2 separate regions of the Homo sapiens genome follow, and region 2 is linked to region 1. Evidence: fine-mapped expression QTL. Tissue or cell type: whole blood. Region 1 holds a variant in brackets; the other region holds the start of a gene. All regions are shown on one strand. Distances are between the middles of the regions. Region 1 overlaps ALKBH5 (alkB homolog 5, RNA demethylase). Region 2 holds the start of ALKBH5 (alkB homolog 5, RNA demethylase).

Evidence for each region.
Region 2: ALKBH5 starts here. The variant in region 1 is fine-mapped to the expression of ALKBH5 in whole blood (INTERVAL, PIP above 0.99).

The regions. Positions count from the first base shown.
Region 1 is chr17:18,201,576-18,210,388 of GRCh38, forward strand. ALKBH5 (alkB homolog 5, RNA demethylase) reads left to right here. Exons shown (of 4, transcript NM_017758.4): 3 at 5,240-5,395; 4 at 6,644-8,379. The coding sequence ends at 6,821. Among named protein-coding and RNA genes, the nearest start is that of LLGL1, 20 kb to the right of the region's middle. The variant C/T (reference allele first, on the strand shown) is at 3,511.
Region 2 is chr17:18,179,537-18,188,349 of GRCh38, forward strand. It overlaps ALKBH5 (alkB homolog 5, RNA demethylase), which reads left to right and starts at 4,292. Exons shown (of 4, transcript NM_017758.4): 1 at 4,292-5,477. The coding sequence starts at 4,708. It overlaps MYO15A (myosin XVA), which reads left to right. Exons shown (of 66, transcript NM_016239.4): 66 at 1-264. RefSeq lists silencers at 1,959-2,253, 4,390-4,689, 4,770-4,859, 5,018-5,169, 6,393-6,442 and enhancers at 3,680-3,879, 3,940-4,179, 4,287-5,124.

The DNA.
Region 1 (8,813 bases):
GGTGAAACCCCATCTCTACTAAAATACAAAAAATTAGCCGGGCGTGGTAGCATGCATCTGTAGTCCCAGCTACTTGGGAGAATCGCTTGAGCATGGGAGGCAGAGGTTGCAGTGAGCCAAGATTGCACCACTGCACTCCAGCTTGGGCTACAGGGTGAGACTCCATCTTAGATAGATAGATAGATAGATAGATAGATAGATAGATAGATAGGATAGATAAGATAGATAGATAGATAGATAGATAGATAGATAGATAGATAGATGATAGATAGATTGATTGATTGATTTAAAAAACCAGGTGTGGTGGCATATACCTATAGTCCGAGCTACTCGCGAGCCTGAGGCAGGAGGATTGCTTGAGCCCAGGAGGTCAAGGCTGCAGTGAGCTGTAATCCCACCCGTGCACTCCAGGCTGGGTGATAGACCTTGTTTCAAAGAAAGTAATTAATTGGCCGGGTGCGGTGGTTCACGCCTGTAATTCCAGCACTTTGGGAGGCTGAGGCGGGCGGATCGTGAGGTCAGGAGATCGAGACCATCCTGGCTAACACGGTGAAACCCCGTCTCTACTAAAAATACAAAAAAAATCAGCCGGGCATGGTGGCAGGCGCCTGTCGTTGCAGCTACTTGGAGGCTGAGGCAGGAGAATGGCATGAACCCAGGAGGCGGAGGTTGCAGTGAGCCGAGATCGCACCACAGCACCCCAACCTGGGCGACAGAGCGAGACTCCGACTCAAAACAAAAAACAAAAAACAAAAAAAAACAGAAGTCTGATGTTGGCAGGGGGCTGGTGGAAGATGGGTGGGGAGAGTCCCGTGAGGGGAGTGGGTACTACTGCAGGAGAGCCAGCAAGGTACAGACCTGAGCTTTGTGGGAGTCTGATTCTCAAAGGTGCTGGAGCTTAGACCTTAGCTCTAGGGACCCAGGTTACTAAATAGGCAAGAGGGTGCTTGGACAGGCCCACAATACTGGTCTCTGCCTCGCTTTGTTGGAAAGCCAAGCTTTTAGCACAAGGATGCCTGGTAAAGGTGGTGCCAGACGTTGGAGAGTAGTTGGTAGCTGGCTGGGGACTGCCCTCGCTCCAGAGTCATCGTGGCCTGAGTGCGGTCTGGTTTACCATCTTCCCAGAAATGGTGGTGCTGCCACCTGCATGCACAGTGTTCTCTTGCACTGAGGAGGGCCCACCTGCACTTTATTTTTTAATTAAAAAAAAAAAATTAGGGCCGGGCACGATGGCTCACGCCTGTAATTCCAGCACTTCGGGAGGCTGAGGCAGGCGGATCATGAGGTCAAGAGATCAAGACCATCCTGGCCAACATGGTGAAACCCTGTCCCTACTAAAAATACAAAAATTAGCTGGGCATGGTGGCGTGCACCTGTAGTCCCAGCTACTCATGAGGCTGAGGCAGGAGAATTGCCTGAACCTGGGAGGTGGAGGTGCAGTGAACCAAGATCGTGCCACTGCACTCCAGCCTGGAGACAGAGCAAGATTGTCTTTTAAAAAAAAAAAAAAAAAAAAGAGTTTAAATAGGGACAAGGTCTTACTTTGTTGCCCAGGTTGGTCTGAAACTCCTGGCTTTTAAGTAATCCTTCTACCTTGGCCTCCCAAAGTGCTGGGATTACAGGTGTGAGCCACTGTGCCTGGCCCCACCTGTGCTTTAGAGGCCATCACAGAGTAGTAGGTAGTAGCTTTGTGACTCAAGCTAGTGATTTGCTCTGGGATTTAGCTTTGCTCTCCAGTCCCTACAGGGAGAATAATTCACCCCAGCAGCTTCTCTGGAGGACCTAGGATAGGATCAACTCCCTCCCTTCCCTTCGGTTCACACTTTAGTGCTACAGCCATCCTTTGTTGTGACCTCCCTTGTCCCTGCTTTGTCCTGACACGGTAGGTGGCCGCTCTGGGTATCACGGTCAACCTCACATGCCCGAGGTCACATGCCCGAGGTGCTTTGCTCTGACCTTTGAATACTGACTCATCTGTAAGGCAGGTCTTCATTCCTGTTGCCACCTGAGGAGGCCTGGGTCCAGACCTTACTGCTAGAACTGAGCCTCCTGAATCCAGATTTGTGACTCTCTGCTAAACCCTGAGGACCTGGCCTACGCCATGAGAGTTGGTTGCCTTTTAACAGGGGCATGTTCTGAAGTTAAGCTACTGGTGGGCACTGGGCTTGGAGTCAAGCTCTAGCCTGGCATCCTGCAGCTTGGTGAATTTTTGGAAGTGTAGGGAGGGCAGGAGCTTCTCCAGCTGTTATGAGATGTACTTATAACAGTCCCAGGGGATGTGTCAAGAGCTCTCATCTTGGTGGCTCTGCTTTTCTCCTACCATCCATCATTCACCCGAAGAAACAACTCCAGAGTGCCCCCACTAGGGCTTCACTGGGGCTTTTGGGGCACACAGGGGCCTTCCTTCCCTGAACATGGGCTCCCTGGCACCTATAGAGTCTTAGCTTTATGGGTACCAGAGGAGGGACTTTCTTCAATGAGGCCCTTAGAGTCCTTTAAGTCAAGTATAAAGGCTAACATTTTATTTAGTCTGATTTCTGCCACCTGGACCTCTCAACTTGATGACACGAAGCCTGGTAAAGAAAAGGTCATTGGGCCAGGCGTGGTGGCTCACGCCTTTAATTTCAGCACTTTGGGAAGCCAGGACGGGCAGATCACCTGAGGTCGGGAGTTCAAGACCAGCCTGACCAACATGGAGAAACCCCATCTCTACTAAAAATACAAAAGTAGCCAGGCGTTGGGGTGCATGCCTGTAATCCTAGCAATTCGGGAGGCTGAGGCAGAAGAGTTGCTTGAACGCGGGAGGCGGAGGTTGCAGTGAGCCAAGATCGTGCCAGTGCACTCCACCCTGGACAACAAGAGTAAAACTCTCTTAAAAAAAAAAAAAAATAGAAAAGGTAATTGGGCCAGGTGTGGTGGCTCAGGCCCATAATCCTAGCAGTTTGGGAGGCTGAGATGGGCAGATCGCTTGAGCCCCAGTGTTTGAGACCAGTCTGGCTAACATGGTGAAATGCTGTCTCTACTGAAAATATAAAAATTAGCCGAGTGTGGCAGCGGGTACCTATAATCTCAGCTGCTTGGGAGGTTGAGGTGGGAGGATCGCTTGAAGTTGCAATGAGCCAAGATCCCGCCACTGCACTCCAGCCTGGGCGACAGAAGGAGCCCCTGTCTCAAAAAATAATAATAAAAATAAAAAGCTCATCTGGAGCCGGGCTTGATGGCTCATACCTGTAATCTCAACACTTTGGGAGGCTGAGGTGGGAGGATCACTTAGAAGAGTTAGAGACCAGCCTAGGCAAAATGGTGGTACCCTGTCTCGCCAAAAAAAAACCATTAGCCGGGCATGGTGGCCCAGTCCTAGCTTCTTGGGAGGCTTGGGCAGGAGGATCCCTTAAGCCTAGGAGTTCAAGGCTGCAGTGAGTTATGATCATACCACTGCCCTCCAGACTGGGCGACAGAGCAAAACACGATCTCTCTTTAAAAAAAAAAGAATGGTTCTATTCTATTTCA[C/T]ATACTCATCTCTGGTAGTTGCCCAGTACCACCTCTACCCAGAGAATCCCAGCCTTGAAGGAGGCAACTTGCCTTCGATTCCTTAGACCCTCAGCGCAAAGAAGCCTTAGAGCTAGTCACATTTCTTTCTTTTGCTCAGATGGGGAAACTGAGGCCCGAGGAGGGATGGTGACTAGCTTGGACTCTGAATGGCAGTGCCAAAACTAGATCATCCTCCTGTTGATGTTAGGTTCTGCATCCATGAGTCTGGAGGAGTCCAGAGTGGAGTCTGAGACTGAAGAGTCACTCACTGCAGCTGGGCCCTACTGGCATCCCCCTCTGCAAGGCCAACCCAAAGGGATGGGGATGCCTGTCCTACCTGCCTACCCACCAGTTTGGGCCTGAGGCATCAGAACATTGGTTCCCAGCTGGAAGGAAGGAGATGCCCCTGCTGCCTTTAGGAGAGAGATTTCCTACCCACGTTCAGAGTAACTCTTGCCTGTCAGGCTTGAAGTCTCACTTTGGCTTTAAACTTTCCCCCGTGACTTGCAGGATGCATGACTTACTGCCTTTCTGATCCTTCCCATCTATGTACAGTAGGCCAGCCAGTGGAATGTGGAGAGGCAGCCATGGGGAATGGGGGAAACTGAGGACCAGATGCAGTTGTTACCAAGGATGCCAAGCAGCCTAGCCCAAGGCAGTTCTTGGATTTCCCTCCTGCTTACTTCTCCCCAGCATCCTCTAGTATCCTTAGAGTCCTGCTCTGACTGCAGCCCCTACTCCTTCGGAACTAAGTTACTACTTTGTGTCTAGCAGACCCTGGAAAAGGTGCCTTCAGGGTCTCTGCTAGCTATGTCCTATCGCTTCCCACCCAGTCTATTACATGGGTCCTTCTGCCCTTTGCTCCCACCTGCCTGACTTGCCAGCCTTCTCTGTACCACACAAGGAGCCTGAGGGCTTTGAGGTTTTCCATGCCAGCTCCCTTCTGTTCTGGCTTCATAAAGGACTTGGATCACTGCCCTGAGTTACCGCTACCCAGCTTCTCCATCCCCCTCTTCCTCATCTGTATTTGTGTGCCTTCCCTTTACTAGGCAGTGTATTCCTTGAAACCTATGGCTACACCTGCTGCTTGGTGGGGACTGTGCCTTCAAAAGCCCTCTGGCCTTTACCTTGTCAGCATCCTGAAATGAGCAGAAACTGCCAGATGACTGCTCATGGTTGTGGAGTGGGCCTGGGTTCCCTACCCTGGCTCTGCCACTCAGTCTCAGCATCCCTGTCTGCACAGTGAGAAGATAGGGTAGCTCTGGCTCTCTTTCTCTCCAGCCCCTCTACAGGCCTGGACCAGGGATCCTTCCTGTGTTGGGACCCACCAGTGGGGCCGTTGGTCCTCTGGCAAATGAAGTAGATGGCCCCAGAGAACCTGTGGGTCCAAGTGGAGTGAGGTGAGGCTGCTTGGTTCAGCTAAGAGCGAGCCCTGGGATCTTGCCCCTAGGGTAGCACAGCCTGTCATTGGGAGTTTCCAGACAGAAGTGTTCCCATTCCTTACTCCTAAAGGTGGACTTGAGGAGGGTCTTTGAAAGTCAGCTAGACCAATCTCTAGTTGAACCTCAAGGAGAGTGAGGTACAGAGCAGAGACTGCTGGCTTCCAGGTCTAGCTGGCTCCCACTTGGCCTGGCCAGAGAATTGGTCTGATGGTGCCCACACCTTCACCGGAGGCCCTTTGGTGACCCCATGCATGTTTCCTTTGCAGGACAAGATTAGATGCACCCCGGTTGGAAACAAAGTCCCTGAGCAGCTCCGTGTTACCACCCAGCTATGCTTCAGATCGCCTGTCAGGAAACAACAGGGACCCTGCTCTGAAACCCAAGCGGTCCCACCGCAAGGCAGACCCTGATGCTGCCCACAGGTACTCAGTTTAGGACCCTCAGCAAAGGCTGGCAAAGGCCTGGCTGCAGGGTGAGAAGGGTGGAGAAGCCTGGGGTAGGCTGTTTAGGAGCCTTGGCTTGCTCACCCTTTCAAAACCTTATGTCTGGTTCCTCTGGGTTGGTGGCATTGGTGACATTCCCATCTAACCCTGGCCAACTGCCTGTACACCCAGAGAGAAGGGGTCAGGCAGAGACTGTAACAGATGGCAATATCATGGCTTTCCCATGACTTTCCTTGTTCAGTCTCACCCAGACACCCTTGTGGAATTATACTTAGATGTCAGGAGGGAATCTTGGGACTTGGATAATAGTGAACCAGGGACTTATTTCAAAAAGGATTGGATAAAAGGTATTTGAGGAGATAATTTTTTTTAAAGGAAAAAAAATGTTTTGGCCGGCACAGTGGCTCACGCCTGTAATCCCAGCACTTTGGGAGGCCAAGGCAGGCAGATCACGAGGTCAGGTGATCGAGACCATCCTGGCTAAGACGGTGAAACCCCGTCTCTACTAAAAAATACAAAAAATTAGCCAGGCGTGGTGGCAGGTACCTGTAGTCCCAGCTCCTCGGGAGGCTGAGGCAGGAGAATGGCGTGAACCTGGGAGGCGGAGCTGGCAGTGACCCGAGATGGCACCGCTGCACTCCAGCCTGTGCGACAGAGCAAGAATCCGTCTCAAAAAAAAAAAAAATATTTTTTAAGTGTTGGGGAAGGTTTCCAAGGAGGTAATGTTTAAGTTGATTCCAGAAGGATAAGGAAGACATGGAAGAGCATTCTAGGCAGGAAATACTGTATGAGCTAAACCCTGAGATACAAAAGAGCTTTGTGGTTTCAGGGGGTAATGGGGTTAGTAAGTGGAGAAGGGGGTGTTGGGAGGCCCAAGAGAGAGAAAGTGGGTAGAGCTGGGAAGTAAAGGTAGATGGCAGAACCATGCAGAGTCTTGAGGCTGTGGTAGGGAAGACCTCTGTCCAGCAGCCCTGGCAGTGTCCCAGGGCACCAGACTCCAAGCCAGGCAGACCCCACAGGGTAATTGGGAAATGTCCCAAAGACTGGGATGGTCACTGGCACTTAGTGGGCAAGAACCTCCGATACCAGGGCCTCTGCCAGGACTACCCTTCGTTGAGGACCACTGAGCTGAAGTGACCCATCCCAAGGATGAGACGAGGTACAGCGGTAAAGCCAGGCGCCTCCTGCCAGCCTCTCAGATAACGTCCTACCTCCCTTTCCTTGCAGGCCACGGATCCTGGAGATGGACAAGGAAGAGAACCGGCGCTCGGTGCTGCTGCCCACACACCGGCGGAGGGGTAGCTTCAGCTCTGAGAACTACTGGCGCAAGTCATACGAGTCCTCAGAGGACTGCTCTGAGGCAGCAGGCAGCCCTGCCCGAAAGGTGAAGATGCGGCGGCACTGAGTCTACCCGCCGCCCTCCTGGGAACTCTGGCTCATCCTTACGTAGTTGCCCCTCCTTTTGTTTTGAGGGTTTTGTTTTTGTTCATTGGGGGGTTTTTGTTTTTTGTTTTTTGTTTTTTTTGATTCTATATATTTTTCCTTGGTTTTGTTGCCTGTTAGGGCTGAAGAATAGAATTGGCCAGGACCTAGGTTCTCATATTCTTGGTATTCCTCCTGGATGGAAAGGCTGTTGGCATCAATAGGGGACAGAGGCTGATGCTGGAGTGGCCAGTAGAGGTGGTGGAGCAGAGCAGCCATCTTTTAAGTGGGGCTGTATCAGGCTGGGTTTATTTAAAAGCAACAAAATGTTTTGGTTAAGAAAATTATTTTGCTTTCAGTGTAAATCTTCGCAGTGTTCTAAACAAAGTTCAGTCTTCTGCTCGCCCCTTTCCCTCACTGATGTCTGCACTTGGTTGAGGTCTCCTGGAGCCTCACAGGCTCTGCTGTTCTCCACTTCTCACCTGCCATCCACGCCCTGCAAGCTCATGCAAACACCCTTTCTTCCTCCTGCGGCAGAGTTGTTCAGGTTGCCTGGGCAGGGGCTTAAACAGTGCCAGCCCCTGCCATCCCAAAGCTATTGTTAAGCCCCCCAGGCGTCCTCCACCCACGCCCACTAGCCTGCCATGTCCACAGTTCCTTGGGCTGCTGAGGGGCTAGTGCAGTGGTCCTGACCTCTCTTATCAAGAGCACACTTCTTTGCTGGTTGCTCCTTTTGAGCATATGCGTGTGATTATTTGGAACAGTTAGACTTGCCACGTTGGGTCAGTTTTAGAAATTGTTTCTAGCTAGAGGGACTGGTGTCCTTCCAAGTCTAGCATTTGGGGTATGGAAAATTGTTGTGGTGTGTGGTAGGGTTTTTGTTTTCTTTTTTGAGTTTTTTTTCCCCCTTTAGTCTCCTGGCTTTTTCCTTTCCCTTCCCTTCTCCACTGGCCAGCTTGGGCCTCATCCTCATGTCATCCTTCTAGGAAGGCGCCTGCCCCATCTTGTCTGCCGGCAGCATGCATCCAAGGCCAGAGCTCAGGCCTGCAGACTGGGCTGGTGCCTCCTCCGCTTCAGGGTATGGGAGTTGGTGAAGGGGCTTTCAAAAAATAATAAGGAAAAAAAGGTAAAGTCTTTGGTAGCTTCTATCCACTCAGATCCTGGAAGGCAGCAAGGTTTTGTGGATCTAGATTCATTAGGAATGTCTTCTTGTCAGCCAGGCCAGGACCCGGGCTTGCCAAGAGCAGAGGCCCTCCCAGCAACCAGGATACCACCACTTTGGGGGCTTTGTGTACAGAGGTCCGGGTCTGAGACCTCATAGGCTGCAGAAATCTGGGGCAGCCACCATCAAGAAGCCCCTCTCAGGGGCCAGAACTCCTTTGCCAGCGTGGATTTCTCAAGTCGGGACTGCATAATTAAAGCAGTTGCAGTTTTATTTTTTTTACAGCTTTTTTCCCAAAAATGATTTGTAGTTGTGTGTGCAGCACTTCGCCCTGATATGTGTGCTCTACAATAAAAACCAAATCTAATATATTTTGAAACAGTTGTCTGATGTTGTTGTAAGAGAGGGCTTGCCTTTGGTGCTTCCTTAATCCCTTTACTTTCTTAAACTTGAAACAGGGGTTGGGGAGGCAGAGCTAGCTCATTGGCCGCCAGCGTCCCAGAGGAGTTGGTTGGTCTTGGACACTGGGCCTCCTGTGTGCCTAGCCTTGGGTTTATGGCTGAAGGTGGACTTGCCCTCACCCCACTGTCCTTTCTCCCACTCCAAGGAGGGTGAACTTCATAAACCACAATGTCCAGGTGCCCAGGGACCACACCTTCTGGAGTTCTGGAAGTCCCTCTTTTAGATATGATCACTGAGAGGCTGGTGCTGGTGAAGGGGGAGATGGCAGGCACAAAAGCAAGGGAGAACCTGGCTTTTGTGGAAAATATGCGAGTGATTTTGCTCATTAAACAAATACTTGGCCAGGCACGG
Region 2 (8,813 bases), 22 kb before region 1:
ACTTGATGGGCCACACAAGTTTGAGAGTGGTACAAGGGAGAAGTTTGGGAAAAGCCTTCTTGGAAAATGGGACATTAGCATTGAGTTTTGAAAGATGAGTAGGAGTTTGCTAAGAATAGATGGAAGACAGCAGGATAAACATTCCAGAGAAAATCATGTTTATTCCCTGCTGTATCTTCCAGAACCTAGGAGGATGCCTAACAGAGAGTAAGCACTTAAAAAATATTTGTCATATGAATGAAAAAATAAACGAGTGAATGTTGATAGAAAGTGCTGGTGCTTTGGGGAGCTTGTGCGGGGCAGAGAACACTTGGGGAGACTAGATAGGTAGATGGGGGCATAGCTGCAAGATCCATGGCAGCAGAGAAAGGATTTATCTACTTATTCAGCCATTCAATAGCTATTAAATACCTACTGTGAATGAGGCAAATACCAGGCACTGGCAGTTAATCACAGTCAAATCACCGCAAACTAGGATAAGACCTGTGAGTGGGAGTTAGCTAGGGAAAGAGGAAAGAGAACAACATACGCAGGGGCCCTGAGGTGCGCATTACTTGTAGCAGGATCTGAGACTGAAGAGGCCGGCAAAGATGGTTTCGATAGGGCTTCTGGGCTACATTAAGAATTTAGGATTTCTGGGCCAGGCGCAGTGGCTCATGACTGTAATCCCGGCACTTTGGGAGGCTGAGGCAGGCGGATTGCCTGAGCTCAGCAGTTCGAGACTAGCCTGGGCAACACGGTGAAACCCCGTTTCTACTAAAATAAGAATAATATACAGGGGCAGCCTGCCCCTGTAATCCCAGCTACTCAGGAAGCTGAGGCAGGAGAATGGCTTGAACCTGGGAGGCAGAGGTTGCAGTGAGCCAAGATCATGCCACTGCACTCCAGCCTGGGTGACAGAGTGAGACTCCATCTCCAAAAAAAAAAAAAAAAAAAAAAAAGAATTTAGGATTTCTGGGCCGGGCATGGTGACTAACACTTGTAATCTCAGCACTTTGGGAGGCTGAGGCCAGTGGATCACTTGAGCTCAGGAGTTTGAGAGCAGTCTGACCAACATGGTGAAACCTCTCCTCTACTAAAAATACAAAAATTAGCCGGACATGGTGGCATGCACCTGTAATCCCAGCTACTCAGGAGGCTGAGGCACAAGAGTCACTTGCACCCAGGAGGCGGGGGTTGCAGTGTGTCGAGATCGCGACACTGTACTCCAGCCTGGGCGACAGAGCGAGACTCGGTCTCAAAAAAAAAAAAAATTTAGAATTTCATCCCAAGAGCCATGAGCAGCCTTCAAAGGTTTTCCAGAGGGGGAAGGGGAGGCACAACCTGCACAGACTGTACTTTGTTAAAGCCATTCTGACCACTGAACGGTGAGTGAATGTAGGAGTTGGGGAGACCAGAGGGGGCTGCTGCAGTGTTAGCTGGAAAACTTGTCATAGATTCTAGTGGTGGTGATGGGTGGGGAGAAGTTGGTAACTGGGGAGAGATTAGAAGGCCCAGCTGGCAGGACTAGGGGGTCAATCAGACCATCCTGGGATGGAGAGGATCAAGAAAGAGCCCCTGATACAAATGCCACAGGGCTGTCCTGCTTTTCACCACTGCCTTGGGTTGGCTTTCCCCAGAAGCAGACCCCAAGGTGAGGAAAGTAAGGAACTCACCAGAAAGAGTGTGGTGTCAATCAAGTTACCACTGTGCAGGGGCCATGCCTGGCAGCAGCTCACTTAACCCCTGGGGTTCTGCCTGCGGCGCTGATGCTCAGTATAGGGACCCCCAAAACAGAGCACAGTGGGCTCCAACATGAGGCAGCCCTGAGGCCTGCCCTCTGCCCCTCATTTCTCATTGTTGTGAGATCATACATGGTGTGTGTGAGGGGGAGGGGGTGTCAGGCTAATTCTTTTGCCCCAAAACCTTTTCCCTAGTCAAGCTGAACTATGAGGCTCAGGAAGGGATGATGTGGCAGAGTGAAAACGAGGGGGCCCTTTTGGCTTTCAGAATACAACTGGGGCCTCCCACACAGACTACAAGCGGCTTCTTGGAAGTAGATCATCCAGGTTGAGCCAAAATGTGAATCACCTCTTCTCTAGGTTGACACAGCCTCTCCCATAACGGACACTGCATTGGAAGCTTCCCTGTGTTCCTCCCTGACTGCTCTTGAGCTAGGACTCTCCCCTCTCGGAGCCCCGGTGAGGGACAGCACAGATTCTGGAACCAGGCAGCCTGGGTTTGAATCATCACTAGGCCACATACTCGCTGTATGGCCTTGGGCAAGTCATTTCACCTCTCTGGGCCTGTTTCCCTATATATACAATGGTAATAATAATAATGCCCTCCTCATTGAATTGTTTGGACGATTAATTGGGCTAGTATATGCACAGGTCCTGGCACATAGTAAAAACTTGATAAGCTTTTTAAAAAAATGTCCATTCCAGGCTGGGCGCAGTGGCTTACGCCTGTAATCCCAGCACTTTGGGAGGCCGAGGCAGGAGGATCTTGTGCCCAGTAGTTCCAAGACCAATTTGACAACATGGTGAAACCCCATCTCTGCTAAAAACAGAAAAATTAGCGGGGTGTGGTGGTACACGCCTCTACATAGTTCCAGCTACTCAGGAGGCTGAGGTGTGGGAGGATGTCTTGAACCCGGGAGGTCGAGATTGCAGTCAGCCAAGATCGTGCCACTGCACTTCAGCCTGGGCAACAGAGACTCTGTCAAAAAAGAACGAGGAGGAGGAGGGGAAGGGGGAGAGAGAGAGGGAGACGGGTGATAAGGAACTGGCATGGGCAACAGCCATGGCAAACAGCCTGGGCAAAGGCCAGGAGGTGAGACACAGTATGTTTGTAGACCTGGCTTACAGGATGAGGACCAGGCTGGGGCTCAGTGTACATGGAAAGAGAGGAGAGGAGGAGCCAAGGCCAGAAGAGTCTTGAAGAAAAGCTTTGAGTGCCAAATAAAGCAGGGGAACTTTATCCTGGGAGACATGGGAGATTTTCCAGCAGATCCCCCCCGACCCCCATTTGTTGGAGCCCTCCAGTGCATCCTGCACGGCTACGCCTTTTTGTTTTGTTTTGCAGCTCTGTCGCCCAGGCCGGAGTGCAGTGGCGCCAGCTCGGCTCTCTGCAGCCTCAATCCCCTGGGCTCAAGGGATCCTCCCACCTCAGCCTCCTGAGTAGCTAGGACCATAGGCGCGCGCCACCACGCCCAGTTCATTTTTAAAAATTTTATTGTAGAGATGGGGTTGCCATGTTGGCCAGGCTGGTCTCAAACTCCTGGGCTCAAGTGATCCGCCCGCCTTGGCCTCGCAAAGTGCTGGGATTACAGGCGTGAGGCCCCGCGCCCGGCAACGCCTTTGCTGACTGCTTCAAAACTTTTTTGAATTGACTGTAGTCATTATCTATAGCTTAGCCTTAGCCTTGCGCCCGTTCGTTTCCTGGAGTTTTCTTCCAGAGTCCCCGTAGGAGGTGCCCCCACGCCCATCTCCAGCACCAAGGAGGCTCGACGCCAACCCCAGCGCGCCCCCACGCTCGCCGTCACCGGGACGTGACTCGTGAAACGTCCGCTCCGGGCGGCGGCGGCAGCGGCGGCAGGCTGGCTTGTACCCCGACAACGCGCGTCTGGCTTCTGCCGGACGTTCCTATCTGGGTTCAGAACTGGGGCCGGGTGCTGCAGGTCCCGCAGTCTGAGAAGTTTTCGCGGGTTTCAGAAGTTTCCTTAGGCGTTCTAAGGGCTTTACTCAGGTGGAGTCTCCATTCAGGCACTTATTTAACCACCCATTTCTCCTTTAGGGGTCCTCGCTGCTCGCCCAGCCGCTAATTAAGTGACGGACACAGTAGCTAAGGAGACTGCCTGATTGACACGCATGATTACCAACCGACTTCCGGAAACTCCAGTCAGGGCCTGCCCGGCGCGTGGCCCACGGCCCAATTAAAGAAGTGGAAGCGCCAAAGGGGGAGGTAACGGAGCGGCCTACGTTGTGGCGGTTCCCTGGTGAATGCGCCCTGGGGTTGAGGCGTCTGCGGGCGTTCGGACGATGCCGTGACGCGGCACGGCGACACTGTTGGCAATATGAGCGCACCCCTGTAGAGGGAGCCCTTCGGTCCTGGAGGCGGCGCGGCGTGAAGACAGGTTGCTATTTGAGAGCGTTCCCTTGAAGCCCCTCAGAGAGTGGGGGAGGGGCGGCGGACGGCAAGCGGTTCCTGTCTGCGCTTGCGCCGGCGCCTCTGCCGACCCGGCCTGCACGCACGCGCATGCCCGTAGCGCGCGGAGCCGCGGTGGCCGGCAGCACTGCGCGTGCGCGGTGAGGAGCCCGCTAAGGAGCGGCGCTGGCGGACGTCGGGCTGGCTGCCCGTGACGTCGTGCGGAGAGCTTTAAAGTGCGGGCCGGGCCGGGCGTCCGAGGGTCTGGTCGGGAGTCGGGCCGCGTCTCCGCAGCAGCCCTCCGCGGCATGAGGCGCTGCCGGCGCCCCTGCCCCGCGGGACGTGGAGAAGGTGGAGGAGGAAGAAGCCCCGTTGTCGCCACCGTTGCATGACCCGCCGCTCCTGAGGCCCTACCCCACGCCCGGACCCTCGACGCCCCCCGCCGGGTCCCCCACTCACGCATGGGGGTTCGGCGCTAAGGACCCCCCTCCCTCCGGGGGCCCCGGGGCGCGTCCCCTTAGAGCCATGCCCGGCTGCCCCGCCCGCCCCGGAGGACCCTAGAGCAGCGTCGTGGGGGCCATGGCGGCCGCCAGCGGCTACACGGACCTGCGTGAGAAGCTCAAGTCCATGACGTCCCGGGACAACTATAAGGCGGGCAGCCGGGAGGCCGCCGCCGCTGCCGCAGCCGCCGTAGCCGCCGCAGCCGCAGCCGCCGCTGCCGCCGAACCTTACCCTGTGTCCGGGGCCAAGCGCAAGTATCAGGAGGACTCGGACCCCGAGCGCAGCGACTATGAGGAGCAGCAGCTGCAGAAGGAGGAGGAGGCGCGCAAGGTGAAGAGCGGCATCCGCCAGATGCGCCTCTTCAGCCAGGACGAGTGCGCCAAGATCGAGGCCCGCATTGACGAGGTGGTGTCCCGCGCTGAGAAGGGCCTGTACAACGAGCACACGGTGGACCGGGCCCCACTGCGCAACAAGTACTTCTTCGGCGAAGGCTACACTTACGGCGCCCAGCTGCAGAAGCGCGGGCCCGGCCAGGAGCGCCTCTACCCGCCGGGCGACGTGGACGAGATCCCCGAGTGGGTGCACCAGCTGGTGATCCAAAAGCTGGTGGAGCACCGCGTCATCCCCGAGGGCTTCGTCAACAGCGCCGTCATCAACGACTACCAGCCCGGCGGCTGCATCGTGTCTCACGTGGACCCCATCCACATCTTCGAGCGCCCCATCGTGTCCGTGTCCTTCTTTAGCGACTCTGCGCTGTGCTTCGGCTGCAAGTTCCAGTTCAAGCCTATTCGGGTGTCGGAACCAGTGCTTTCCCTGCCGGTGCGCAGGGGAAGCGTGACTGTGCTCAGGTAACCCACCCGGGTGGAGGGGGCGGCCCTGCGCCTGCTGCCTTAGCTACCCACCCTGGCCCAGAAAGCAGCAGCCCGTAGGAGTCTGCGTTTTTTACAGTTCTGACCAGTTCTTCTGTTTGTAGATTGTAGGGAGCGAGAGAAGGGTTTTGTGTTTAAGATACCTATAGCAAGAAAATAGGGAACCGATGTGGAAATCCTGTCCCCGAAGGCAGGTTTGACGGGATCACTGACTTGGCTGAGAATTCATCGAAAGCCATCTTTTCAGAAGGCTGTTCCCTTTGATTTTTTTTTTTCCCACCATCCATTTCTTAGCATAAGTCCCTTTGTGATTTTCCGGTTTTCCATTCTGGCCTTCCATTTACAAATCTATGCTTTAAAATTTTTTTTTTTTTTAATTTATCTAAAAGTCTTTCTTGTTCTGCCATTTTTGGATTCCTTAACAGAGAAAGTAGTCACAGGCAAAGGCCCCAGAGATTATTTAATTGAAGCACATTCTCCATTCCCAGGAGGGGGAGTGACTTCCCTGGAGTTGAACAGATTAGTGGTTGGGCCAGGCATACAGAGCAGCACACTCTTAAAATTCTTCCCTCCTGGCTGCAGAAGAGCCCATCAGTTCTTTGTAAGAACGTGTTACTTGTAGTCAGGACTGAATACAACAGAATACAGCTGGTCTCTTGACTGTTTGGCCTTACAGTTGCGTGAGCAGCAGAACTTAGGCTTTTGGCCTATATTCGGTTCCCAGATCCTGCTGAGAATTAGCTCAGTGCCCTGGCCCCCAGAGGAGATTGCCATTGGGAACACCTTTGCTGTTTATGTGAAGTGAAAATTTATTTGGAAGCGGCCTCCTTCCAGTCCTGAAAAAGGTAAACCTAGTAATGTAATTCAGTAATACCCAAAACATCTTAGGTTTAGACCGCAGCTGTTCTCAGAGCAGCTTGGTTGACCACCACCAAATACAAGGTTGAGGACACACTGGGCTTTTGTCGTGAGCAGCCCAGGTTCTGAAGTGAGTCAGTAGGGCCAAAGTCATGAGGAGAAGCAGGGTCCCTGGAGCCTTCTTGATATGAGATTAGGTCATCTGTTTCATTTGAGTCTAACAGCTGAGGCTGCTTCCATGTTGGGGATGGCAGCAGAGCCTTGTAATGTCCAAGACGTCCTGGTGGGAAGGTGGGAAGTCAGTAGTAGCAGAAGCGATACTTTAGCTCTTTAGGCATCTGAAACTTAGAGGACAGCCTAGCTGTCAGATGCCTTCTTATAATGGGCTTCTGAGCTTCTCAGATCTTCATGGCGCTCCTAGATGGATGTCTTGGCAAAATGCTTTAAGATGGGATTTCCAGGACACACCCTCTCCGGGTGCTTGCTGTGTAAGGCAGGTTGGGGTCTGACCCCATTGACGGGTTCTCAGTGCAAAAATTACCTCACACAAGGACCATTTGGTCTCTTAGCGGGATATTAATTTTCTGCGTAGTCATTGGCCCTCAGGGTGGTTGTCAGGAGGTCTAGTAGTGGTCTGGTGCTTAATGAGGGGATCACAAGGCATTTTTTTTTGGTTTTGGGACTACTACTCTCCTTAACACATGCCCACCCTGTATTTTAAGAACAGAAGTTTCGAGTTCTTAGTATGCAGGTCTGTTAGTGATCAGCAACAGGATTGCATCATCAGGAAAATTCTCTTCATCTTTTCCTCAGAATAGTAAAGTCCTAAAGCTTTCCCAGTCCCTGTCAACCCTTTCTGGATTCAGACTTGGCTGTGGTGTTAGTGTGGGAGGCTCAGCCATGTCCTGAAAAGTGCTGCCCCAGGCTTTGAATCCAGCTTTTCTCTCATTTGCTTTGGGATCTTGTAGGCGTTCTCTGAGCTGGCTTTCCCATCTGTAAGTGGGGATGATGCCAACTTCCAAAGCCTATTAGAATTAAATGTGGTGATTTGTTGTCTAAGATAGGGCCTGGCACAGGGTAGGTACTTAAATGGGTGCTTGCTTTCATATACAACCACTCAGTGATCCCCTGCTCTCTCACTGGGGAAGGAACTAGGGATTTGGTGGAGCCTGAAACATGACAGTTTCCCTTCGTGTAGTTCAAGCCCCATGGAGGCCTCAGACAGGAGGATAAGTTATAGCCCAGGAAGGTAACTGCAGAAGCACACTGAAGGGGGACATCTTTTCCACTTTGGAGTGTTGGAAGTTTAGGGGAGGAAATGAACTGGAATGTGAAAAGTGACTAGGAATGAGCCAAGCAGAGAAAGGTGGAGAAATACACAACAGCAGTGTCTTTGGCTGCAGTAGCAGGAGTAGCCATAGGTAAGAGGGGGTGGATGTTGATGGGAGGCAGATGGAGTTCATTAGTAGAGACTGTGGTTGAGGGTGCTCTGGTGAACTCTAGATCAGGGCTTCTCAACAGTGCTATTGTTATTCAGGGCTTGATAATGCTTCATTGTTGAGGCTGTTCGTGCATTGTAGACTGTTCAGCAGCATTCCTGGCTTCTATCTGCTAGGTGCCAATAGTGTTTTTTATGACAACCAGAAAGTGTCCAGACACTGCCAAATGCCGAGGCAGGGGAAGTGCAGAATCCTTAGTTGAGAGTCACTGCTCTAGGGTCTGGACCCTTCCACTAATTAAATCTTCTTGCACCTGCATACTTAGCTTACCTTGGTATGCAGGTGGGTGAACACCTGCCTATTAGTAGTGCCCGTCGTCAAATCCTGCATATAAACTGGTAAGAAGTGGTGCTTTCTCTTTTCCTGGTACAGATCCTAGCCCAGAGGTGATGAGCAGTAAAGCTGCAGATTGGAAGGGAGGGGCTGGTGAAAACAGTGGTGCGGTGCAGATGGGGAGGGATTCTAGTAGTAGGCATCTTAGACTTCAGTTGGTGTTGGTGGCAATGGTATCTGTACCCCTCTAAGACCGCATGGCAAGAATACAATTTTATATTTAATAGTGATCAGCATGGATGTTGGTGCGTCACAAACATTGACTCAGCAGTGTCTAAACCTGGGCATTTAGAACAAGGCCTCACAGAATCTTCTGGAAGTGCTTCAAACTCCTTTCCAAACCTAGTCGTCAGTTGTTTTTTGTAACCTTCCCATGTTAGGCCTGGGTGGATCCCCTCTTAAGGCTGTACTTTAGGGAAATATTTTTTATCTTCATATCACTTTATCTGTCATTCATTCTCCTATTCCCTGTTGGCTGCATGGGGCAGATTAAAACAGACTCTGATTGGACTAATTAGAATAATTACTTCAAGGCTAATTGCTTACTTGCTGCTATCTTTAATCACTGCTACGTGGTCTGTGGTGTGGTGGCCACATGCCCAGAGACCCAGGCCTAGGCCAGCCG